Homo sapiens: one gene and its partners. The protein of the gene in region 7 purifies or fractionates together with the protein of the main gene of each other region. This does not show direct contact. Each region holds a gene or a part of one and is shown on either strand. Other genes may lie near its edges.

The links.
Region 1: the proteins of PPM1H (region 7) and MELK purify together in Homo sapiens (affinity purification with mass spectrometry, with the first as the bait; one large-scale study listed by BioGRID). This does not show direct contact.
Region 2: the proteins of PPM1H (region 7) and PLEKHA5 purify together in Homo sapiens (affinity purification with mass spectrometry, with the first as the bait; one large-scale study listed by BioGRID). This does not show direct contact.
Region 3: the proteins of PPM1H (region 7) and LPIN3 purify together in Homo sapiens (affinity purification with mass spectrometry, with the first as the bait; one large-scale study listed by BioGRID). This does not show direct contact.
Region 4: the proteins of PPM1H (region 7) and RTKN purify together in Homo sapiens (affinity purification with mass spectrometry, with the first as the bait; one large-scale study listed by BioGRID). This does not show direct contact.
Region 5: the proteins of PPM1H (region 7) and KIF13B purify together in Homo sapiens (affinity purification with mass spectrometry, with the first as the bait; one large-scale study listed by BioGRID). This does not show direct contact.
Region 6: the proteins of PPM1H (region 7) and MAP3K21 purify together in Homo sapiens (affinity purification with mass spectrometry, with the first as the bait; one large-scale study listed by BioGRID). This does not show direct contact.

Annotation. Positions count from the first base shown.
Region 1 is NC_000009.12:36,670,395-36,673,894, forward strand, and holds part of MELK (maternal embryonic leucine zipper kinase), read left to right. Parts: intron 1-603; coding exon 604-772; intron 773-3,500. UniProt on the Homo sapiens protein: Serine/threonine-protein kinase involved in various processes such as cell cycle regulation, self-renewal of stem cells, apoptosis and splicing regulation. Has a broad substrate specificity; phosphorylates BCL2L14, CDC25B, MAP3K5/ASK1 and ZNF622.
Region 2 is NC_000012.12:19,132,733-19,136,232, forward strand, and holds part of PLEKHA5 (pleckstrin homology domain-containing family A member 5), read left to right. Parts: intron 1-3,500.
Region 3 is NC_000020.11:41,354,321-41,357,820, forward strand, and holds part of LPIN3 (phosphatidate phosphatase LPIN3), read left to right. Parts: intron 1-324; coding exon 325-417; intron 418-499; coding exon 500-543; intron 544-1,575; coding exon 1,576-1,714; intron 1,715-2,719; coding exon 2,720-2,868; intron 2,869-3,040; coding exon 3,041-3,127; intron 3,128-3,279; coding exon of another isoform or gene 3,280-3,500. UniProt on the Homo sapiens protein: Magnesium-dependent phosphatidate phosphatase enzyme which catalyzes the conversion of phosphatidic acid to diacylglycerol during triglyceride, phosphatidylcholine and phosphatidylethanolamine biosynthesis therefore regulates fatty acid metabolism.
Region 4 is NC_000002.12:74,435,438-74,438,937, reverse strand, and holds part of RTKN (rhotekin), read left to right. Parts: intron 1-3,500. UniProt on the Homo sapiens protein: Mediates Rho signaling to activate NF-kappa-B and may confer increased resistance to apoptosis to cells in gastric tumorigenesis. May play a novel role in the organization of septin structures.
Region 5 is NC_000008.11:29,253,071-29,256,570, forward strand, and holds part of KIF13B (kinesin-like protein KIF13B), read right to left. Parts: intron 1-3,500. UniProt on the Homo sapiens protein: Involved in reorganization of the cortical cytoskeleton. Regulates axon formation by promoting the formation of extra axons. May be functionally important for the intracellular trafficking of MAGUKs and associated protein complexes.
Region 6 is NC_000001.11:233,330,724-233,334,223, forward strand, and holds part of MAP3K21 (mitogen-activated protein kinase kinase kinase 21), read left to right. Parts: intron 1-3,500. UniProt on the Homo sapiens protein: Negative regulator of TLR4 signaling. Does not activate JNK1/MAPK8 pathway, p38/MAPK14, nor ERK2/MAPK1 pathways.
Region 7 is NC_000012.12:62,690,651-62,694,150, reverse strand, and holds part of PPM1H (protein phosphatase 1H), read left to right. Parts: intron 1-151; coding exon 152-215; intron 216-3,500. UniProt on the Homo sapiens protein: Dephosphorylates CDKN1B at 'Thr-187', thus removing a signal for proteasomal degradation.

The DNA of each region.
Region 1 (3,500 bases), on a different chromosome or scaffold from region 7:
CACTTTATGGTGTTGTCTTTATGGAAGACAACATCCTTATTCATTGGAGATGTATACTGAAGTGTTTCAGAGTAAAGTGTCATGATATGTTCAGATGAGTTACTTTCAGATGGCTTAGCAAATAAGTAAATTTAATGTATTATCTACATACATTAAATTTATGTGTATATATAGATATATACATTGATGTATATATATCAGTGTATATCTATATACATATGTACATTAATATATTATCTATATCCAAATAGAAAGCAAATGTGGCAAAATATGAACAATTGTTGAATCTAGGAGGATATACCGGTGTTCATTGTACTCTTCTTTGAACTTTTCTATATATATGAAAAAAGGATATATATATCCTTTTTTAAAAAGGAAGGGGATAAATAGTTTTGCTGAGTGGCAGTTGCCTGGTAGAAGTGTGACAGCTCCTGTCCAGGGGGAGATGGCTTTGGTGCTTCCTGAGGAAGAGAGAGGTGATCTGGCCCTGGCATACCTGAGTGAGGCATCCTAATGTGTATGAAGGGACAAAAGTTCACCCTTGTGGACCCCACAGGCCGGAGGCCCAGCTCTACTTGTGCCTTGTTTTATGTTTTGTTTCAGGTGCCGCTCAGTGGAATTGGATCTCAACCAAGCACATATGGAGGAGACTCCAAAAAGAAAGGGAGCCAAAGTGTTTGGGAGCCTTGAAAGGGGGTTGGATAAGGTTATCACTGTGCTCACCAGGAGCAAAAGGAAGGGTTCTGCCAGAGACGGGCCCAGAAGACTAAAGGTAAGCAGGCTGGAATTCTTTCATATGGAGCAGAAGCTGACTGCTAATGGACTGCCTTTTTTTTTTAAGGTGCTGAATGAATTGATTAGTGTTTTTTATTTGAGTATTTATTCACTTAGTTAATATATGTTTTTTGAGCAACTAAAATCTGCATGTTACTGTGCAGTCAGTAAATAGATACAGTCACTCCCTTCAAGGAGCAAACAGCTATCATTCAAATATTCAAGAACAGGTGGAGGGATTAGTCACAGGGGCAACATGGAGGTGAGGAAGCAGGGGGCACAGATGGAGAGCTGAGAGCTGCCTTAAGGAGGGGGACTTGAGCTCAGTTGTGTCCCTGATTCATGGATACTTTGTAGGCCCTCATGAAATATTTGAATGCATGGGAAGATAATTGGAACTTTGAGTGTGGTGTGTGTCAGGAAAATAGTGAGTGACAAGCGGGGAAGGTAGGCCGGAAGGGCCTCAAGGCCTGGCTAAGAAGGTGTGGATCTTATTTAATAGACCCAGTATGCTTTAAAAGGGTTAATGTGTCACTGGTGTGGACAATATATTTAGTCAAGGAAGGAAAGGAAAAATAAGCTGTTAGTTGATATAAAGTACTTTTTATTCTCTTGGATTCTCTCTGAGCATTCATTCAAACATCTGATGAATACATGTTTGTTTGGTGGAAGGGGAGTAATTAAGAGGTAAAGGGACGAATGAGACAGCCCATTCCTTGAGGAACTCTTAGGCTGGCTGTGAAAACAGGCTGGGATGTTGTTCTGAAACACTGGGCTCAGTGCTATAGTAAAAACACATTCCAAGAGGTGTGGGCCCAAGCAGGGGAGAAGATGGTAGTGTGCCCATCATTTGGGGACTGGGTCTATGTTTAGTTTTTGCACTGAGACTCTCGTAATGAGCAAATCTGGGCGGTTTGAGGGAAGGAAAATGCTGAGCTTTTGGGCAGAAGGGTGTTTTAGAGGAGAATGTTCTGTGATCTCATTTCTGTTCTGTCTTAAAGTGGAAGAAGATAGGAGTTATCCACTAGCAGTCATTACCTTGAACTTTTGTAGTGTGCTGAGACGTTACATATGGCTGTGTATTAGGCATATTTTATCCTTTTGTTCTGAAATTTCTCTGGTTGGAGATAGTTAAGTATTTCAAGCACCGACACTGAGATTTAAAAAAACCATAGTACCATTGCACTGAAAAATGTTAAATAAAATTAAGGAAACTAGTTCAACCACATATATACACATTATTGAGAAGCTAAGCAGTTACCAAATACTAACGGATAATGTTCTAAAAATGGTCAGTTATGTAAATATTTTGGAACCTGAATGCATTTTTCAATAGAAACTACTGTGGTGTTAGTTGGCTTTCTAGGTAGTTCTCCAGTACTTCCAGAATGTAGGAGAAAAACCACAGGATTGGGAATGAGAAGACCTGGGTTCTGGCTCCAGCTTTGTGCTGTATAGCTTTGATAAATCATTTTATTCCTGATCTCCTCAGTGTCTTCATTTGTAAAATCTGGAAATAATGCCTACCCTGGCAACCTCACACGGCTGAGATGTAGAAACAAGACTCTACATATGGGATGCTACATGGCATATTAAATGCTTTATGAGTATAAGGTGACATGTTTCCAATGTCAAGGATTACTATCAGTGTTGAGCATTTTACCACCCATGTATAGACCCATGGTCCTAATTAGCACAGTCCTAAGATTGAAAACTTTAACTTTAGATCATTAACACTTTTTAATGCTTTTAAGTTTTTGCAAAACTGAAGGACTTTCTTTGGGAAATTAACCTTATTTTTTTTCACCTACTTCAAATACTGTACTAAAAACTATACACTTACCGGAAGAGTTGCAAGGATAGTAGAAATAATACCTTAGTTTTTTAAGATAGCAAATCATATGTAGTTATGTCCTCTTTTAGGAAGCAGTCTATAAAAAATCCAAAATTTAAGTAGATAAATTAGGATTCATTCTTTATTTTACCAAAGCAGTAATATATTGTGATTTGAAGGTGTTCAGTTTATTATTAATATCATCTTAACAGAGCCAATTTAGTTTGGTGAAAAGAGTGCTGGATCAGGAACCAAGAAAGAGAGGGTCCCTTCGTTAACACTCAGTTTCACGACATTTGCTCTATGGGTGTATTGGGTGCACTATTATTTATCTGGTATTTTCATTATGTTGACTCTCCTTTAACAAATGGATTTATAGAGATATAACTGACATATAATAAACTTGCACATATTTTATTTTATTTTATTTGTTGTTAATTTTTTGAGGCAGAGTCTTGCTCTGCTGCCCAGGCTGTGGTGCAATGGCATGATCATAGCTCACTGCAGCCTCAACCTTCTGGGCTCAAGTCATCCTCCTGCCTCAGCTTCCTGAGTAGCTGGGATGCGTGCTACCACACTTGGCTAATTCTTAATTTTTTTTGCAGAGACAGGGTCTCACTATGTTACCCAGGCTGGTCTTGAACTCCTGAGCCCAAGTAATCCTCCTGCCTTGGCTTCCCAAAGTGCTGGGATTACAGTCATGAGCCACTACACCCGGCCAACTGTGCATATTTTAAAGTACAATTAATATGCTTTGGCATTATATATAACATCTGTGAAACCATTGCCACAATCAAGATAATTTTTTAAAACTCAAATTTATTTAAAAGGAAACCTTTATATCATTAGGGTTTTTTTGTTGTTGTTGTTAATTATGTTTTCGAAATCAGTT
Region 2 (3,500 bases), about 44 Mb from region 7:
TTGGAATCGTCCAGCTTCATCAGAATATGACCACAATTACCTTTTTTTTTTTTTTTTTTTGGTGCTTCTGTGTATATTCCTGGGTAATAGAGGATTATTGGTCATTAGCTATGTGGTACTTAAAGTTTTGATCTTTGATTATCTGTGCTGAGAGATAACAAACAAAAAAAAATCTGAGTTACGTGAACATCTTTTTTTTTTTTTTTTTTTTAGTGAACCTTGTTCATGTATATTTTGACCAGGGCTGTTTATAGGTAGCAAAAGTGATGTAAAGCTAGGCACAATTTGATAAACAATGACGGTCAGGGAGTAAAAATAGAAATAGTTACTGAATATTTCATGAGCATATATTGGAGCATTGTTTGTATTTTTGCCTCAGTTTATTTAAATATGTCTAAGTCAAGATGTTTTATTGATATGTTTGTTTAAAAAAGGCTTTTAGTAGAGCTTGAGAGAAAAGATGACCAGTCAGTCCCAATCTTAAAACCAGTTCTTTAGAATATTAAACTAATTTATGTTCAAACTTAATAACTTAGTACTACTTGGAGACAAATACAAAGCTGGAGGTCAACATCATGTAGGAAAAATTTTAATCCCCCAACGAAAAATATGGGTGGTTTTGTCTTTTTATTTTTATATTAGAAACTATTTACCTAAGAGTTTGTTTTTATTGTTTAACCTTATTTGTTCTTTAATTTTAATAAACTGAGACATGAAAGAGAATGCTGAAATGCCAAACTGGGTTAAGACTTCAGTAGTTTATAAACAATAACAGATACCTAGCTAAAGTTACCTTTATTTCATTGAGCCTAGAAAGTTATTTTTACTGTGACATTTTTAAGATCATGTTATACTTCCAGTAAATTATAATTACCTGTATGGTTCTTTAATCTTTTAGAAAGATACTTAGATAAAACGTCAAGGGCTTTTTTATAAGTATTAGGAATGCTTGCTTTTGGATGTAGAAATAGAGAAAGCAGAAGATACAGGAATGGAATAGTTTCATGGTATGGTCTTTCTGTGAATATTTTTGGGTGAAATCTTTTCTTTGGAGATTATACTATACATTATTAGATGGCCTAAAAAAATACTTGAGTGAAATGCAGTCATCAAATGTTTTTCTATTGGTTATTTCCATCCTAAATTAAAGTGAGTTGATATTGCCACGAAAAGGGATACTTCTTTTCTTGTCAAGCTAGTAGTATGGTATATGTGAAGAAAAACAGTTTTTTCATTTCAGGTCATTTATTCAATGTAATTTTGACTACTGTACATTAAGCCTAGCTCATCTTATAAAAACAGAGGTAACATTTCAATTTTCAATAACATTTTAATTTCTTTGCGTGCATTCTTGGATGAATGTTTATTTGATAGTACAAAATCTTATTCTGTGTGGGCTGAGTATGTATGTTTTAATTTAGAACTAAGCTGTTAGGAAGACATTGAGTGAGTTTCTTTTGTTTTACGAGCCATTTTGATTAGGTTTTCTTTTATGTTTACTTAAACAAATTAGAATTTTATTTGAGTGCCATGTCTAATGCCTAAGTAGGTTTCTCTGGAAAATTAAGACAATATTAAGAAAGCTATAATAATTTTACTTTAAAGACATTTTTAAACTTGTAGGTTTTAATCATTTTGGTATTCATAGCCAGTAATTGTGTCCAAAAGTAGCAATAAATAACTTATAATATTATGGAAGTAATTTCTCCTAAAATTGAGCATAGTGTTGCATATCACTCATTAAACTTTTAAAAAAACTAACCATTGATAAATATATGATGTACTGAATGTTAGGTGCTACTGCTTTATCTTCTGGGTAATGTCAGAAGACTAATTTCTTTTAAGGTTAGTTAAATCCCTAATGTGCACTGTAATTTCCTAGAAACTTTTTACTTGTTTGTATTGTTATTTATCATTCTAATAGGATAGGGGCACTACTTTTATCTTAAACTTTACAATTTAGAGTACCTTCACATACATTATTCATTCATGAAGTAGTCAGAGTTACTACTCCCATTGTCACACACATAATAAAACAGCAGAAACATGCCTTTGGAACTTACAGTTTGCAAAGACAGCAGGATGAGAAACCCCAGGAACATAAACTATATTTAGAATATTCAGAGTGGAGGAAAAGATAGGAGTCTGAAGTAGGAAAGTGATTCGTGTTGGTGGCTATAGTTTTTCATTGTCATTTCTTTCTCAGATGAAGAAAGGTGGTTATTGATCAAATTGTATGTAAAGGAGGTTACAGGGTTATCGGGGTGGATTTTGTTCACATGGGAAGTGGAAAGATAGGAATGCCAATAAAAGACATGTCAGCCCTTTGACTATTCCTAATCCTGTGTTCTGGAAAGTTCTCACTGCAAGAAGGGAGACCTAAAGAATTTCAGTTGTTTCTGCTTCCATTGTGAAGTGAAATATATATAACTCTTAAATTATTCCTCTCCTGGACAAATGTTGGTTGGTGTTAAAAATGGCAGGTTACCAGAAAGAATTTATCTCTTAATTATATTTTGGTATTGACACTTGCATCTCTGTAGGTGGTAAGAGGAGAGGATTGTAGTGGGGAAGTCATAGGAACTGAAATGTGGTCTTGACCTTAATGACTTTGGAGCTCAGTCTTCACGTCTTTAAATTAGGTTACCTGGAAAAGGCAACCTCTAAATTCCATTTCTAAATTTCTTTGAATTTTGTACTGTTCTGGGATTTATAATATTCTGGAAAACAAGGAACTCACAATGCCAAGCAGAGATGATGCGGGAAATATGGAAAGCTAGCTTTTCTATCCTTCTTAACTATTTTATCCTCCCTCTTTAAGCTTTGGATAGACAATCACAGATAAGTATGATGTATGTAGTGCCAGGGTTGTGTGTACTTTCTTTTGCTGCTTTTTGTGCTTACGTTTCCTTGTAAAATGTTTGTATACATATCTTCATGTAAACAGATAGTACTGCTAATGTAAACAAAGGACCTGATCAGCGTAAGAGTTGTATAGGTTTGAGTTAATCAGTTTATTTTATACACTTTGAAATTGGTTCTTTAATACAAGTTTGCAGCTAGATTAAAAAAATATGTAATATAGAGAATGTATTTTCCTTCACATCCATTTGGCCAAAAAACAGTAAAATATGAAAAATCTTACTTTGTTTTTTTTTTTTTTTTTGAGGGGGGTTTCACTGTGTCACCCAGGCTGGAGTGCAGTGGCTCTATCACAACACACTGCAGCCTTGACCTCCTGGGCTTAAGCGATCCTCCCACCTCAGCCTTACGAGTAGCTGGGACCACAAGTGTGTACCACCATGCCTGGCTAATTTGATTGATTGATTGATTGAGAGAGACAGGGTCTTCCTATGTTGCCCAGCCTGATCTTGAACTCCTAGGCTCACGCAATCCTCCTGCCTTGGTCCCCGAAAATGGGGGATTATAGGCATGAGCCATGGTGCCTGGCCAAAAATCTTTATCTTTAAAGATATTTAATACTTTTTTTCTGAATAATT
Region 3 (3,500 bases), on a different chromosome or scaffold from region 7:
AAACTCCCAAAGCATTGCTTTTAACTACTCTAGTAAAGGAATGGATCCACAAGATTTGGAGGCCAGGCTGAGGCTGGGTTAGAGCTAGGGACCGGGGCTGGGGGCAGGAATAGCCCTTGGTCTTTTGAGTATAGCTCACCCAAGTCATTGCTTGGAATCCCAGGATGGAGGTGAGCACACTTCCTTGGCCTCCAGATGTTGACAGCACCTTACCCTAGGGTTGGCTCAGACTCTGGGCTCATGCGTGGAGGGTCCCAAGAACAACGTAAGGTAGGAGGTTTATGTGGTGCAGGAAACACTGCCATGGCTTTCATCTGCCCACAGAGCACCATGGACAAGCTGGAGAGGGAGAAGATGCCCCGGAAGGGTGGGCGATGGTGGTTTTCCTGGCGACGCAGGGACTTCCTGGCCGAGGAGGTGGGTGGTCACAGTCGAGGGCCAGGGCCAGGGCCAGCACAGGGCGGGAGGTGGGATTCACTAATGGATGTTCTTTCCACAGCGCAGTGCCCAGAAGGAGAAGACTGCAGCCAAGGAGCAGCAGGGGTGAGTGAGACCCCCTATTGGGGCTCTGCAGGGGGAGCCTGGGAAAGATGGCCCTGGGTGCAGGTGGGTGGCAGGGAGGAGCCAGCACCCTGTCTCCAGCTGTGGGTTTTTTTTTTTGTCATTCCTCAAGCACCAAGCACTTCTTTTTTTGTTGTTTTTGTTTGTTTTTGAGACAGAGTCTGGCTCTGTCACCCAGGCTGGAGTGCAGTGGTACGATCTTGGCTCACTGCAACCTCCACCTCCCGGGTTCAAGCGATTTTCCTGCCTCAGCCTCCTGAGTAGCTGGGATTACAGGTGCCCGCCACCACACCTGGCTACTTTTGTATTTTTAGTGAGACAGGGTTTCACCCTGTTGGTCAGGCTGGTCTTGAACTTCTGACCTCAGGTGATCTGCCCACCTTGGCATCCCAGAGTGTTGGGATTACAGGCGTGAGCCACCGCAAGCACTTCTATACCTTTTCTTTCTCCTGAGAAATGGCCCCATTTTACAGATGGGAAAAATGAGGCCTAGAGACACATTTCCTGGCCAACAACCAGGAAATGGCAGAGCTGACACAGGTCCTCAGGCTCCTGCCCCAGACAAGGGGATCCCTATTAAGGAGGGGCAGGGCCTCTCGCAGCCCAAATAAGCCAGCTGACTTTGTTTCTTTTCCACATCTGAAGTGACCCAGCTGCCTAAGGCTGGGTGGAGAGTAGCTAAGGATGGCCTGACTGAAACCAAAGCAGGTGGGGTTGGGAATAAGCCCAGAGATACACTTTAGGTATTTCAGGTAAATATCTCCAAGGCAGACACTGAGGGCTGGCAACCCTGGGTCTCGGCACCCTCTGCTGTCACTTGGCTGGGTGGAGACTGCCAGCCTGCACCCCTGTGTCTGCCACCACTCCAAATGGGTTGCACCTAGAGGGAGGGATCACTGATACCCTGGGTAGGCCCTGGCATGGCGGGGACAGGTCCAGCCTCCTCTTGGCATCTCCCGGGAGTGAAGGCCCTTTGGCTGGAGGAGATGGCCTGAGAGCCAGTGTGGTCCACAGGGAGAAGACAGAAGTCCTGAGCAGTGATGACGATGCCCCAGACAGCCCTGTGATCCTGGAGATCCCCTCCTTGCCACCCTCCACTCCACCCTCCACTCCTACCTACAAGAAGTCCCTCCGCCTCTCCTCCGATCAGATCGTAAGTGTGGGTTGTCTGTGTGGAGGTTGGGGAGGGGCTGAGCTAATTCTGTCTTAGAGTCCCTCAGGACCTGGCTGAGAAATGGCTCCAGGGAGCCACATGTTCACCAAAGGCCAGAATCTATCCCCTTGGGAGCCTCCCTGATGGCCTCCACTTGAATACCTCCAAGGGCAGGGCGCTCACTTCTCATGACAGCCCATTTGTCTGTCAGACACCGGGAAAGCTGTCTCTTAGGTCCTCCTAAGATATCAACCTGTAGTGAGCCAGCAGGCTCTAGGTCAGCCCTTGGAAGCAACACTAAAAAGAATCAAATGCTAATGACAGCCCCTCAGATTCTGGCAACCCTTGGCCCCAAGTCACCTCTTCTCTAAGCTCAGTAACTGGTGGCTCCTGGAATAAGAACATATTTTCTTCATGGTTGTGGCTCCATGGTCAGGGAAGTGTCCAGGAGGGGCTGACCAGCCAGTACAAAGCAGCTGCCATCTGTCTGGTACCCTGGAGCTCACACTCAACTCAGGGCTTTGGTGGGAAGCGGCCCTGATCCTTCCCTATGGATCAAGTACAGGGTTAGGCCTCTCCTTAGGACAATGTTGACTCAGGTACCCTGGCCCCAAGGAGGGGCTTCCTATGGAGATCCCCACAGGACCCCCATCTATGGAGGGGGGTGTTTTCCTGCCAACAGCAGTCCCAGCCTTGGGGCTGGCCTGGGAATCCTGGGCAGGGAGTCATGGATGCGGCTTTGTGGGTTACATCTCAAAGGGGAGTGAAGGGAGGCTAGGGCTCCTGTGGCCTGCACTGGACAGGGCCCTGATCAGCATGGCCACCCTCTGCCCACATGGATGTGTCTGTGCATGGCTATCTCTGATGAATCCAAGAAGCATCTCTGAGCTGGGAGGAAGAGGAGAATGAGAGGCCCGAGGGGATCGGAGGCCACGGCGTAAGGGGAGAGGTAGGCAGTGCCTGGCTGTCATCAATCACGACACACCCCCCTTTGTCTGGCCTCAGCGGCGCCTGAACCTGCAAGAAGGTGCCAATGATGTGGTCTTCAGCGTGACCACTCAGTACCAGGGCACCTGCCGCTGCAAGGCCACCATCTACCTGTGGAAATGGGACGACAAGGTGGTCATCTCTGACATCGACGGCACCATCACCAAGTGAGGCCCACCCAGCTGTGGGAAGGGGAGGGAGAGGGGTTGTGGACTCGCCTCCCTCTGTGCTGGGTGTGGTGGGGAGTGAGAGGAGCCCTCCCTTCCTGGTGGGCCATCCTGGGGCTGGAGCTGGGCCACGTGGAGCTGCCTTGGAGTAACCCTTCCTCTCTCACTCTAGGTCAGATGCTCTGGGCCATATCCTGCCCCAGCTGGGGAAAGACTGGACACACCAGGGCATCACCAGTCTCTATCACAAAATCCAACTGTGAGTGCCTGGGCTGGGGCTGGGGCTGAGGCGAGGCCCCCAGCTCTAGAGAGGGAGTGACAGGACAGGACATCTTGGGGACCAGCAGGGCCCACAAGGCAGGCTGCCAGGGCAGGTGCCTGGAGTGCTGAGACCTCTCTATTGGCCCGCAGTTCTGGGAAAGGCTCATCCCCTGGGGCTGTGTTCTAGGATCAGGGCCCACCTACTGGCCTGCAGCCGGAGGGGAGGCCCTCTCCATCCTGGTCCACCCAGGCCTCAGGACTCTGTGCACCGTCCAGCTGAGTCCACTGCCTGGCCGTTCTCTTCAAGTCCCCTCCCTGCAAAGGTTGGAACATCAGAGTCCCACAGTTGGGCTGGGCAGGCTAAAGCCAGA
Region 4 (3,500 bases), on a different chromosome or scaffold from region 7:
TACCTCAGTGAATAAGACAAGAAAGTTCCATTGTAGTGGGAGAACAGAAATATACATACGAACACATAAATAATATCACATAAAGAAATTATGATGAAAATGGGGATGTAATGAAAATCAGATGAGGGAGGCAATGTTAGATGTGGAGGTCAGGGGAAGCCTCTGTTGGGAGATCTTTGAGCTAAGCCCAGGAGGATTTGGAGATATGTGAAGACTGGAGGAAGGGCAAAGGCCCTGATATGAGGATGAGGGTAATATATTTGTGGGAAAGAGAGAGCCAGTGTGGCTGGAATATAGTAGTTGGGGTGGAGCTGATGGGCAGGGGCCAGATCATGCAGGGCCTTGAAGGCCATGATAAGGCACCTGGATTTCACCTTAAGTGTGATGTTGGGCCATGGAAGGGTTTTAAGCAAGGGAATGACTCATGCCATGTTTTTAAATGATGGCTGCTATGGAGAATAGGCTGGTGGGAAGTTGAGGGTAGGGTTGGGGGTGGAGGGTTGGCAAGAGAGTTCGCAAATGTCCACCAGGTGGGAGGCTGTTTCACTCCCACTTCAGGTGGGAGTGAACCTGGTGGTGTGAATTAAAATGCTCATGGTGGAGAAAGGGAGTAGATTTCAAATGGTGGTGGTAGGTCTGACAGGATTTGCTGATGGATTGGATGGGAGGGCAAAGAAAGAGAACTCCAGGATGATTCCCAGGTATGTGGCTAAGCAACTGGGTGGTGTGGCTGTTTACGGAGATGGGGAAGATGGAGGAAGTTGTGGAAGTGACTGCCTGGACCAGGCAGGGGCTGCTGCTGAGAGGTCAGAGGCAGGACTGCAAAGAGTCTAGATCAGGAATGGCAGGATATTGTATGTGCTGTCCCCCCTCAAGCCCTGCCCCCACTCCCTGGATCATAGTAGATGTTACTGGTCAATTTTGGCACTCTTTATCAACGAGCCCAGACCTGGCCTCAGAATCTTTCTCAGGACCGTCTTGGCATAAACTGTGCAGGTTGTGTCCTTCACACAGGTGCCAGCCAGAGGTGAGAGTCCTGGTCTGGTTTCAGCGGCATCAGGAGGGAGCACGTTTATCTAATTTGTTTGCCTGGAGAGGGTCAGCTTTTTCTAATTTGTGGAAAGGTGTCCAGTGAACTCGTTGGGACTCTACCTAATTATCCTCCATCAGTGCATGAGATAAAACCTATTTGCCATTCATAGTCCTCTGCACTGTCCACATCAGTTACATATGGCTATTTAAATCTTACTTTTAGTTCATTAAAATAAAACAAAACATTAATTCCTTAGTTGCTGTAGCCATATTTCAAGTGCTAGATGGCTACTGAACATTTCCATCACCGCAGAAGGTTTTATTGGACAGAGCTGGTCTAGGTATGTAAATGTTTAAATTCTGCATCCTACCCTCCTCCAAAAAATGTAAATTTTCTCTGTGGAAGGCCTGTTCAAGTTCTGGGGCAGAGGAGATGCTTAGTTTCACTTTGGTCACTCTCCTTTAGGAGAGTGGCTGAGGGTGCTGTGTTCTTTCTCAACCAAGTTCAGCAGGTCCTCAAAAGAGAGACCCATTGATGTTTCAGGGAATGGCAAAAGAGATAGTCGTGGAAGAGTAAATCCAAGAAGACTTTCTGGAGGAAGTGACTCAAGTTGCAAGTAAAGGGGGCTTATTTTAAAATATGTGCTAGGCCCAGGTAGAGATGAGACTTTCCCATATAATTCTCAAACAATGCTACGAAGGAGGTGGAATACTCCCCATTTTACAAACTCAGGTTCCAGGGGTCAAATTCTGTGGGCTTGTCAAGTCCCTAAACCAGGATTTGTACTTAGCCCTGGTGGAGATTCTGAAGGGAAAAAAGGGTAGTGAGAAGCAGAGCAGGAAGTCAGAGACTTAAGAGAGTGGGAGGGGTGGAAGGGATATCAACAGGGGGCCTAATGTGTGTGGGGCCCATGACTCATCCTCTAGCCCCTTGGGATCTGACCCGGGTCCAGCTGACACCCAGCTCTGCGCTCTTTCCCAGGGGAAATGCTGCCCGCTTGGGGAGAGGGTGTGTTTGGGTGGGGAGGGGGCAACAAGGAACTATCCCTGGGTTGGGGAAACGCTAGAAGCACAAGGGTCCAGATCCTGAGCCAGGATTCCCAGTTCCTCTGCCTGAAAGGGTGGGAGCCAGTTTCCTAGGGCGCTCCCGGCCTTGGGCCTTGGGAGAGTGGATTTGGGGCTGGAGATCAGTAGGGAAATAGAGGAGGTGTCTGGACTCGTGGTCCCACTCATCCATGCTGGGCCCAGTGACCTCCCTAGGGCCCCAGCTCTCCCAATTTATACACTATTCGCCCTCCATACTCTCAGGCAAGGGGTCACCTTGGAGGGCAAACGCTACGCGGGAGGGGCCTCCCGGAGCTGGAGCACGTCGTGAAGGCCAGGAGCCTTTTCCAGGGCGGCGCGGGCGCACTCCTGGAGGTCCGGTCCCGCCGCGATGGAGTCTCGGTGGAGGCACCGCCTTGAGCCAAGCCCAGCCAGGTGCCCGGAGGGACCTCCAGCGCCCTGGTACCCCTCAGTTGCTCTCGCGGCAATTGGGAGCTGATGTCACCGGCGTCCTGAGCGCTGCAGCTGGAGGCGGTGCAGCTATGCTGGCGCCCTGGCTCCTCCGATTTCCCGCGGCCCTCGGACCCAGCCGGCTCCCCAGGCCAGTGCAGCTCTCTGGACCTCGCGCGCCTCTGCGCGCCTCTCGCAATGGAGCGGGCTGGGGAAGGATCCGTGAGTGCTGGGACTGGGATGAGACTAGCCAAGATGGGGGTTGAGGACACCTCCGTGTCCCCCTCCTGCCAGGCTCACCCATTTGGGATGTTTGTGGCTGAAGCTGGGTGCAGACTGGGGTGGGGGTTGTCGGGCAGCGCAGAACCCTGGTGCAGACAAAACTAGACTGGGAGGACCTATGTAGTCTGAAAGGGCTTCCTGGTGAGGGGCTTTGGGAAAGGGTTGGCTTATTACAGAAGGAAAACGGGTGGATGGTGATGGGGGAAGGTGATAAAAGTCCGGCCTAGCACAGTGGCCCAGAAAATAGCCAAGGAAGCATCTGTAGGCAGGCAGGACAAGGCTTTTTAGAAGAGGGAATTTAGGGTGTTCGGGTCTGAGAGACTTGAAGGCTGGAGCCACTAGGGACAGATGCAAGGGCACAGTGTATGGAGGAGAGCTGGTGTGAGGAAAAAGACAGGTTTGGAGTGGTCACATTAGTTCCCCTGTTTCAAATGGATGGCTCGACTTGTCTCCTGAACCAATCTGTACACTGTGATAGAGTTAGTCTTCCAACTCCTCTCTGAAGCTTTCCTTGATCACCTCAGCCAGAAGCAAACAGAGGCTGTTTCTTGTGAGCATGGTTGTGCCATGACATGGCACTTATGGAGCAGCCATTAAAGTCATCATCTCTCACCTCCCAGCTGGATTTTAAATGTACAACCTTGGACAGTACAGGGATGCTCCAGTGTTGACTGAGTAAATGCTGCTACCAC
Region 5 (3,500 bases), on a different chromosome or scaffold from region 7:
TAATTAAAATAATCCCCCAGCTACTTGGGAGTCTGAAGCAGGGGGATCACTTGAGGCCAGGAGTTCAAGACTAGCCTGAGCAACACAGCAAGAACCTGTCCCTAAAACAAATTTAAAAAAAATAATTAGCCAGGTGTAGTGGCATGCACCTGTAGCCCAGCTTCTCAGGAGGCTGAGATGGAAGGATCATTTGAGCCCATGAGTTACAGGCTGTGATGAGCTATGATTGTGCTACTACACTCCAGCCTGGGCAACAGAGCAAGACCCCATATCTGAAAACAAATAAAATAATCCTATGTGACCAAAAACATAAAATGTTCATACTCAAGAAATGAATCAGCTGGGTGCAGTGGCTCATGCCTGTAATCCTAGCACTTTGGGAGGCTGAGGTGGGAAGACATCTTGAGCCCAGGAGGTCAAGGTCATAGTGAGCTATGATCACACCACTGCACTTCAGCCTGGGCAACAGAATGAGACTCCATCTCTAAACAAATAAACAGTTTAAAAAAGAAACCAATCAACCTCAGAAGACTAAGAAACAGGTATTTAAAAAACTCATAAGGCACCTGGCCAACATGGTGAAACCCTATCTCTACCAAAAATACAAAAATTAGCCAGGCAGGGTGGCAGGCACCTGTAATCCCAGAAACTCAGGAGGCTGAGAAAGGAGAACTGCTTGAATCTGGGAGGCAGAGGCTGCAGTGAGCCAAGATTACGACATTACACTCCAGCCTGGGTGAGAAGAGTGAGACTGTCTCAAAAAAAAAAAAAAAAAAAAAAAAAAACCCGCTTAAGGCAGAACTAGAATAGCCAAAACAATCTTGAAAAAGAAAAACAAAGTCAGAGGACTTGACTCCCAGTTTCGAAACTTAATACAAAGGTAGAGTAATCAAGACAGTGTGGTACTTACATAAGGAAAGACATATATACATTGATGGAATGGAATTGGGAGTCCAGAAACATACTGTCACAGTTATGGTCAATTGATTTTGACAAGGGTACCAAGACAATCTAATGGAGAAAGAACAGTCTTTTCATCAAATGGTTCTAGAACAACTGGATATCCACATGCCAAAGAATGAAGTTGGATCCCTACCTCATACCACATTCAAAACTCCAACTGGATCAAAGATCTAAATGTAAGAGCTAAACCTATCAAACTCTTAGAAGAAAACAAATGAAAATCCACATGATGTTAGATAATGGTTTCTCAGAAATCACAGCAAAATCACAAGCAACTAAAAATAAACTGGACTTCATCAAAATTTAAAACTTTCATGCATCAAAGGACACAAGGGAGTGAAAAAGAAACCCATAAAATCAAAATATTTGCAAATCATCTATTTGATAACAGAATGGTATACAGAATGTATGAAGAAGTCTTACAACTCAGTAATAAAAAGATATAGTTTTTGAAATAAGGGGAAGATGTGAATAGAGATCTCTCTCAAGCTATACAAACGGCCAATATGCACATGAAAAGACGCTCAACATTATCTACCAGAGAAAGGCAAATCTAAACCACAATCAGATACCACCTCATACCCACTAGGATAGCAATACTCATGGAGAGAGACAAGAACAAGTGTTGGTGAGGATGTGGAGAAAGTGGAACCTTCATGCATTTCTATGGGAATGTAAAATGGTTCATATGCTTTGGAAAACAGTTCCTCAAAAGTTAGTTACTATATGACTCAGAAATTCCACTCCTATACATATGCGTATCTGAGAAAAATGAAAACACATGTCTACACAAAAGCCTGTACATAAATGTTCAAAGGAGCATCATTCATAATAGCCAAAAATTGGAAACAAGCCAAATGCCCATCAATTGATGAATGAATACAAAACACAGCATATCTGTGTAACAGAATGTTGTTCAGCTATAAAAAGAATGAAGTATTGATTCATGACAAAACATGGATGAGCCCTGAATACATTATACCAAGTGAAAGAAGTGAGATACAAAAGTCCACATAATATAGGATTCCATGTATTAAATGTCCAGAATAAGCAAATCCATAGAGTCAGGAAGTAGATTAGTGGTTGCCAGGGGCTGGGAAGTGGGAAATGGAGACTGACTGCTAACAGTTACAAGGTTCCTCTGTGGGGTGATGAAAATGTTCTGGAATTGTATACTAATAATGGCTGCACAAGTCTGTGAGTAAACTAAAACCCAGTGAATGGTACACTTTGGGGATGTGACTTATATCTAAAAACCAAGAAGAAAAAACTCGGAATGGATGACCCCAGTACCCTCAATAGATAGAAAATACAGTTAGGGTCCTTCAACCACATTCCTACACATTCACTACTCAGAAGACCCCAGCTCACCCAATTCCTCCTACTTTCAATAACCTCACATTCTACCCCATCAAGAAAATTAAGCTTGAAATTCCTGGGCTTTCCCATTATATAATTATTCTCTTCCTCCCATATTTCAAAAACTTCTATCTATTGGCTCTATCTATACAAGGTTCAAATATCTCCCCAAAACTTTTTTTTTTAAAAAAAGGTACCTACCCCTCCAGGTACCACTCTGAACCCTCCCCTTCTACCTGGAGTTTCTCAGAGGAATGTTCTTGAGACTCGCTGCCTCCATACTGGCACGCCCACTCACTCCTCAGCCCACTGCCAATGCCCAATACCAATTAATTCGTTTCAGTGAAATTATCCTGAAAATGAACACTGACCATCATAATGCCAAATCCACTGAACACAATTCTGTGTTAATCACGCGGCCATTCCTGTGACATGTGATTGCTTTCACCTTTCACTCTTTTGACACATTTTTCCTCCCTAGGCATCCACAACATTGCTTTCACCTGATTCTCCTGAGGTTGCTCTTCTTGGCCTCTGTGACCGCCTCTGTCACAGACACACCTGAGGTGCTCTATCTTCTACCTACAGTAATGACTCCGAAATCTACACCTACGTCCAGTCCCTTCGTTTCAGACTCATATTCACAATGGCCTTCTGGATCCATCCACCTGGCTGCACTTCAGACACCTAAAACTCAATTGTGCTGAGTTGCTTCCAGGCACACACTGCATCTTATTCATAGTTGCAGGCAGGGTACACAGCACATAAGCACTGACGACACACTGTTGACTGAGACTAGAACTCATCATTTCCCACACCTCCACCCTAAAACCTGCTTCTCCTGTGCTTCTGATTCAGTTAATGACACCAGCATTCACCTAGTCATCTAAATCAGAGACTTTGCAGCGGATTCCCCAAGTTCAGTGATCCTCAGATGCCGACACAAACCCACTGTATGTGCAGCACCCATCTGGATTCCTCCACGTCACCCCGGTGGAACTTGGAGCCAAGGGGCCTGCTTGTGCTGTCTTCTGTGCTGTTCTCAAATTCCACCCCCATTTCTTTAATTCATGATTGGCTGCCATCAGTGCACTAGGTACATATATTCTTCCAATGAACTCACATGTGCATCTTATTATCAACAAGACTGGGAGCTCCTTTGATGGAAGATCAAGACT
Region 6 (3,500 bases), on a different chromosome or scaffold from region 7:
CTAAAAAGTTAAAGGGCCTATAGCTATTACTTTTACACTGCACTTAGTTTTGTTTGGTTGCAATACTTTTCAAAGTTCATACAACACAGGGTAGAGAATGTTTGCTAGTGTTTTTAAAGCATGTTTTAAAGGATGTTTATCCATTCCTATGGGTTAATCCATAGGATTTATGGATCAATCAACAATCCATAGCAATTATTGCAAATAGTAAATTTTTATAAAGTTTTATAAAGTTTTATAAACTTTTATAAAATATAAATGTTTAAAGAACTCCTAATATTATTAAATGGTAAAAAGAAATAACATGACCCTGGAATAATAACTATGGCCGAACAGTTTTTACTGACACCAGAAAAACTTGTATAGTGGAGTATAGACTACTGTGTATTCAGTAGATATTACATAATTTGATGGTGATTACATGCTGCTACTTAGTTTTTGAAAGACTTTTCAGTCTCAGAATAAATTGCCAAACTTCCCGGAGTATTTTAATTTCTATAATTGTCAGGCAGGATTCCCTTTGCTTTAAATTGTTGCACTCTTATAAAAGACTTAATTAGCTAGTCACTAGCCTGGCCAAGTATTTGTTACAATATGACCATTATCATAGTTATTTAATTACTATAAAGTGAAGAGTTTGACTGGGGTCTAGAATGTGCAAACCATGGTGCCTCATACATGGTCTTTATCCTGAATGTCTGATTTTATTTGTTCAATGAATAAATGCAGATTTGAAATTCTCTGCTGATATATGAAGCTATGACTTCTTGTTTAGACTTTTAAGTATAACAGATACTCTATTGCAGTATGTTTTGTTTGATTTTATTGGATATTTGCTAATGGTGGTAGTGAGTTAGTGATAACGTAAACAAGGTTTTAAAAATCAATATTGAATTTTATTTTCACTCCGAAGTGTACTCATGTACCAAAGAGCTAATAGAAGACTACTTGGAGCCAATTCAGTGGAAATTACTGTTTTAAACAAATATTTAAATTTGTCTAGAGAATATGTTACTCTTGACAGATTTTCTTTTATCTTTTCTAGTAGATCTTCTCAAGTTTTATCATATCTTGTGAGGGAATGTCTGTGTCTAGATAATAGCTGATATGTTGTGAATGATATAAACAACTTTGTCCCTTTTCTAACAGGTAGCAACAGGTTGAAAGTTGTGCCAAGTTAGCAAGCTTTAAGCAACATTTATGTTTTAAATAAATACTAGGCCCTGTAACTCCCTTCTGGATGCAAAATAAGTAGAAAATACTTTATATAAGTCTACCTATAGGCACCCCCCAGAGAACAATACAAGGCAACTTTGAGTTACTGTGAAAATCGCCAGTGTTATGCGCATTTACAGAAGAGAGAAACATTGTGGAGAGCTGGAACTCATTCAACACTGTTGGAATGCCCACCCTGTGCCAGTCACTTCTGGGCCTCAGGGACACTGGCAAGCCAGACATCAATGACAACAAATCTGCCATCATAGAGCTTAGTCTAACGGGGAAGATAGATGGCAGTCACGTAATAACAAATAGATTAGAAAATGCCATCAAGAAAATTAAGCATGGTAAGGGGTGGAGAGTGGTAGAGTGGAGGATGGGGGTGCTGTTTCACACAGGGGCTCTCCAGGGAAGGCACTCCGAGGAAGGACCACGAATTCGTCAAGCAAAGACCCAGGCAAAGGAAAGAGGAAGCAAAAATGAGCCTTCCATATTGGAGGCCTAAGGAGAAGGCTGGTGAGGAGAGGCATGCGTGGGGCAGGCCTGGCAGGCCTCCCTCTGCTGTGCACATGGAGGTTTCACTTGGAGTGATGGTGCTGGCTTCTGTGAAGAACGGACTGCAGTGGGCTCAAGTGATGGCTTTCAAGGTTGTCTATATGAGAGGAGGCACCGACTCTGCCCAGAGTGGTAGCAATGGAAGTATTTTGCAGGGAGGTTACCAGGGGGCAGTGAAGATAAAATACTGCAATATAAGAATTCCCAAGGATGGTTTGAAATATTAGAATTTTGTTTAAGAGTTTTATTTATCAAATTGCAGAAGTGCAAGATTGAAGTAAGATTATGTGGCATCATGTATGGTTTCCTTTTTCTTTTTTGATGTTGCTTATTGTGTTCTATTTTTTTTTTCTTAAGAGGAAATAAACTTTCCATGGGGAACTGAGCCACAAATTATGGTAGCTACTTACTTTTATACTTTTTATGTCAGTGATTAAGCATTTATTATCTCAATTTTTTTAGTCTTTTAGGAATAATTATTATCTATCTACAGTATTATTTACAACTACAATAGTTGTATTTATTATGAAATGCCATTTGGAGCTCTTACTATGACAAACTGCAAAAGGAATATAAATTTTGTTTTAGCTTTTTTTCATTAGTACTGTGTAAATAAAAGAACTATCTGAGAAAATTATGGAAAATGTAATCTCCAGATAAGATGTTTAAATAGCTCATCAGAGTGATTTGGGGAAGCTACTAATTTCACTATTATCAGTTGTAAGACATAAGTTCCTTCTCTCTTCTGTTCTTATACTCAGGACATGTAGCTTCATGCTATAGCTGCTTCCTATTCCAGGAGGCACAGAGAAGTCAGTCCAGATGTCCCAATGGTAACTGAGATCTACATCTGCTTTTGAAACAAAGTTAGTGAAAGATTAGACTTTTAGAAGAATGGCAATCACAAAAGAGTCACCACATCTTCCCCCATCATTTTCATGTTTGCGTATTAAAAAGTAAGTAGCTGGCCAGGTGTAGTGGCTCATACCTATCTATCATCCTGGCACTTTGGGAGGCCAAGGTGGGAGGATCGCTTGAGCCCAGGAGTTTGAGACCAGCTTGGGGAACATGGTGAGACCCTGGACTACAAATATTAAAATTAAAAAAAAAAATAGGCAATGTCTTATTTTTTTGTAGTTGTGAGGGGTATAGCTAGTTAGTTCTGAATTATGCAAAGTATCCGTATTTGATCAGTTTTGTAATCATTATCAAGTATATCAAAGCAGGGTAAAGGAGACAGAGGAAAGTATTTATCTGCTCTACCCATTTAAGAAGGTCATTTGTAAGCCCTGCTTTTTCACACTAGCATTTAAGTGCTAAACCTACCAGAATAGTGCAGCTAAGGGAAACAGCATTGGCTTTTTTGTGTGTGTTTTTGTTTTTTTGAGACGGAGTCTCGCTCTGTCCCCAGGCTGGAGTGCAGTGGCACGATCTTGGCTCACTGCAAGCTCCGTCTCCCGGGTTCACGCCATTCTCCTGCCTCAGCCTCCCGAGTAGCTGGGACTACAGGCGCCCGCCACCACGCCCAGCTAATTTTTTTTTGTATTTTTAGTAGAGATGGGGTTTCACCGTGTTAGCCAGGATGGTCTTGATCTCCTGACCTCGTGATCCGTCCGCCTCGGCCGCCCAAAGTACTGGGATTACAGGTGTGAGCCACCGTGCCTGGACTTTTTTTTTTTTTTTTTTTTTAATACAAGGTCTTGCTGTGTAGCCCAGGCTGGTCTCAA
Region 7 (3,500 bases):
TAGGGAGAACAACTCCCTATAAAGGAAGAGGTAGTCAGTGTGGTGAGTGGATGGGGTCTCAGGGAAAATGAAATCCCTAGCAGTCGGTGTCAGGGCAGCAGGTCACTAATTGAGTGCAAACCTTTTTTAAAATGTTGTTTATCCCCTACAGGGCATACAAAACCATTGAGGATGAGGACTTGAAGTTCCCCCTTATATATGGAGAAGGCAAGAAGGTAGGCACGTGTGCTTCCCCTGGGTAGAGAGGACAGGGCTCTGTCCCGCCTTCGCTCCACATAGCCCGTGGCAGTCCGTGTGTTCCACTCAGCAGCTTGTGATTTTATAGCCTTGACAGCTTGAAAGCATATCCCATCCATCATCCTTCAGGCCTCCTGTCTTCAGGGTCCAAGGAGTAGTGGGGGTGGGAGGTGGGCGGTGAGCACAAGGGACTCAAGCCAATTTTGTGAAAATAAAGTCCCCCTTCCCAATCCATTTGAATAACTTTTTACAGTGTTTAAACATGAACCACTTTCACACACATCATCTCATTTATATCTGACAACGAGCAAGGAGGCAGGTCAAGCTGGCTGTGTTATATCCATCTGGCAGACGAGGCAGCTGGGACTGTGAGGTTAAAACAGCTCAGGCAGATCACGCAGCCAAGCGAGGGGCAGCTGCGGATGTGGTGCCTTGGCTTTCTGTCTGCTTCGCGCGTCTCAGACTCCACCATGGAAGTCCAGACTTTGCAAGTCTGTTTGCCACTTGCCCCATGGAAGAGAGTCCAAAGCGTCACTGTAATTAGACTATAAGGTCACAGCAACCAGAGTCCAGACTAAGATAACAAAGACCATCATCAGCTCCCAGGGTTCCAGTCAGAATCCAGCACTGAACAGCACGTTGTCGAACCAAAGAAAAGCTGTGGATCCTAAAGTGGTCTCTGAGCAGAGGCCTGGAGGAGGTTGAAATCCTGGAGTGGAGAGCAAGAAGCTTGGAATCTATTTCCTAGTAAGAACAAACACCTTCTGAATCATTGCATTCTTCCTCGGAACACTAATACATTTCAACTCGGTGTGAAGCATTCCAAGTGAAAAATGTGGTCACATTGAGAAGAGTCTTCAACTGATAATTTTTCCAGCATTCGATACGATAGTTTTTATCAAGAAGAAATGACTCAGAAGAAAACCAAAGGATGCCTTCCATGGGCAGAGTGTGTGTGTGTGTGTGTGTGTGTGTGTGTGTCAGAGCAAAAGCAAGAGAACAAACATGGTTAGGTTTTGGGCTCCGTGTAGACCAGCAGTGATTTCAATGCAAAAAGACATCTCAACAGAAGGAGGAATACCAAACACAAATATCTGATCCATGTAGGAATCATTTTTTAAACGAACATACCCCATTCATGAAAATGAACACCTTTCAGATCACAGTCTCTGGTTAAGAATCGTGTCAGGGCTAATAGGCACTGTTCTGATATAAATATTTGTGCCTTTTGGTACAATGGGCACCATTAATGAGTATCATTCAGCCCAATGACCTATGCCTGCAGCTCCATTTCTTTGTGGGGCTGAGATTCTCTGTATTACCCTTTAATATCCAGTGAGTTCCAGTAAACTCAGGAACACATTCTGTTACCCCTGTATCTCTAGTTCCTGTCTAGCCTGGTACCTGACATAAATGCATAAGTATTAAATAAGCTGTTCAGTTATGTTCAGTATACTTTCCTTAGTACAATAGGAAAATGGAATGATGTATTCTTGGAAGTTTATAGCAGTAAGATTTGAAGGAGCAAGAGTTTTCTAATTTTAGTATAAAGTTCAATTCACCAAAACATCATGTTCCTCAAGCATTTCAGGTAATTTAAGCTTGATGGTCTTGCGATGGGCAGGTGGCAAGTTCTGTCCGTGTACCTGTTGGCCTATTTAAAAGCCACCATGTCTCCATTTTGCTTTTGTTGGTAGATACCACCCCTTTCTGAGGACTCCATGAGTTCTTGGAGCTCCTTCTAGATCCTGGACTGGGATTTTCTCTTTCTTCTCCGCGTACCCCTACGCAGAAATTTCAGAGTACTTCTGTGGCCATTACTTCTCATTTTCTTTCTTCAGATGCTTTTAAAGACTGGTGTGGGTAACACCTGGATACTTCGTAAACAAGGTCAGTCACTAGCAGAAACATCAGATTTCTTTGGCTGGAAAGAGCACACAGAGAAGCCGCCATTTCAGGGAGGAGAGCAGGAGAGCCACAAGGGACTCAGAATTTTTCACATTTAGAGTTGAGCACTTCTTGGCTAGAAGGGAGCCAGTCCAGCCTCCCAGCAGGGCAGAGGGCCCCAGGCTTTGCTTTGCATCACTTTTTTTTTTTTTTTTTGAGACATGGCATCAGGCTGGAGTACGGTGGCACAATCTCGGCTCACTTCAGGCTCGACATCCCAGGATCAGGTGATCCTCCCACTTCAGCCTCCTGAGTAGCTGGGACTACAGGCGCATGCCACCACACTGGCTAATTTTTGTATTTTTTGTAGTCAGGAGGTTTTACCACATTGCCCTGGCTAGTCTCAAACTCCTGGGCTCAAGTGATCCTCCTGCCTTGGCCTCCCAAAGTGCTGGGATTACACATGTGAGCTACTGTGTCTGGCTGTGTCTCGTGTCTTTATCCCCTCTGACCCTTGCCCTCAAAAAGGTGTCATGGTTTCATTTCTGCTTAATGTGAACTCTGCCTACCTTCCGAACCAAGGCTGGCTTCAAAATTCACAGCCCTGTTGACAGTCTAGGATGAAGATGAAGACAATATATTAAATTGCAGTGTTTCTTAGCATTTATTTACTTCATCCCCACTCATAGGAGGTAATTACTCTTATCACCCAGGTAATAGAGTGAGGATTCAAGCTCAGGTCTTTGAACCATTTCACTACACCGGATATATTTTTTATGATTAAGGGTTAGGACACTGCTTTCTTCCACCCAGGATGACTTTCACTCCATCCCTCTGTGTCGCCTGTCTTGATGCAATCCACCTTTCTGTGCTAAGTGCCACCTCCTCCGTGGAGCCTTCTCAGTAGAATTTTTACCTCCTCTAAACTTGCATAACCCATTGTCTATGTGTTTTTCAGTACTTAACCATATTTTATGTGTTATTAATTACACATCTCCCTCTTATCTCCCTTACCAAGTTTCTTTTTGGTTTTTTTATTTGTTTGTTTGTTGGTTTGAGACTGAGTCTCACTGTGTCACCCAGGCTAGACTGCAGTGGCATGATCTCAATTCACTGCAACCTCCACCTTCCAGGTTCAAGTGATTCTCATGCCTCAGCCTCCAAGCAGCTGGGATTACAGGTGCCCACCACCATGCCTAGCTAAATTTTGTATTTTTCGTAGAGATGGGGTTTCACCATGTCAGCCAGGCTGGTCTCAAACTCCTGACCTCAAGTGATCCACCTGCCTCAGCCTCCCAAAGTGCTGGGATTACAGGCAAGAGCCACCGCACGTGGCCCCAAGTTTCTTTGTAGTAGGGACGAGGCCTTAGACATTT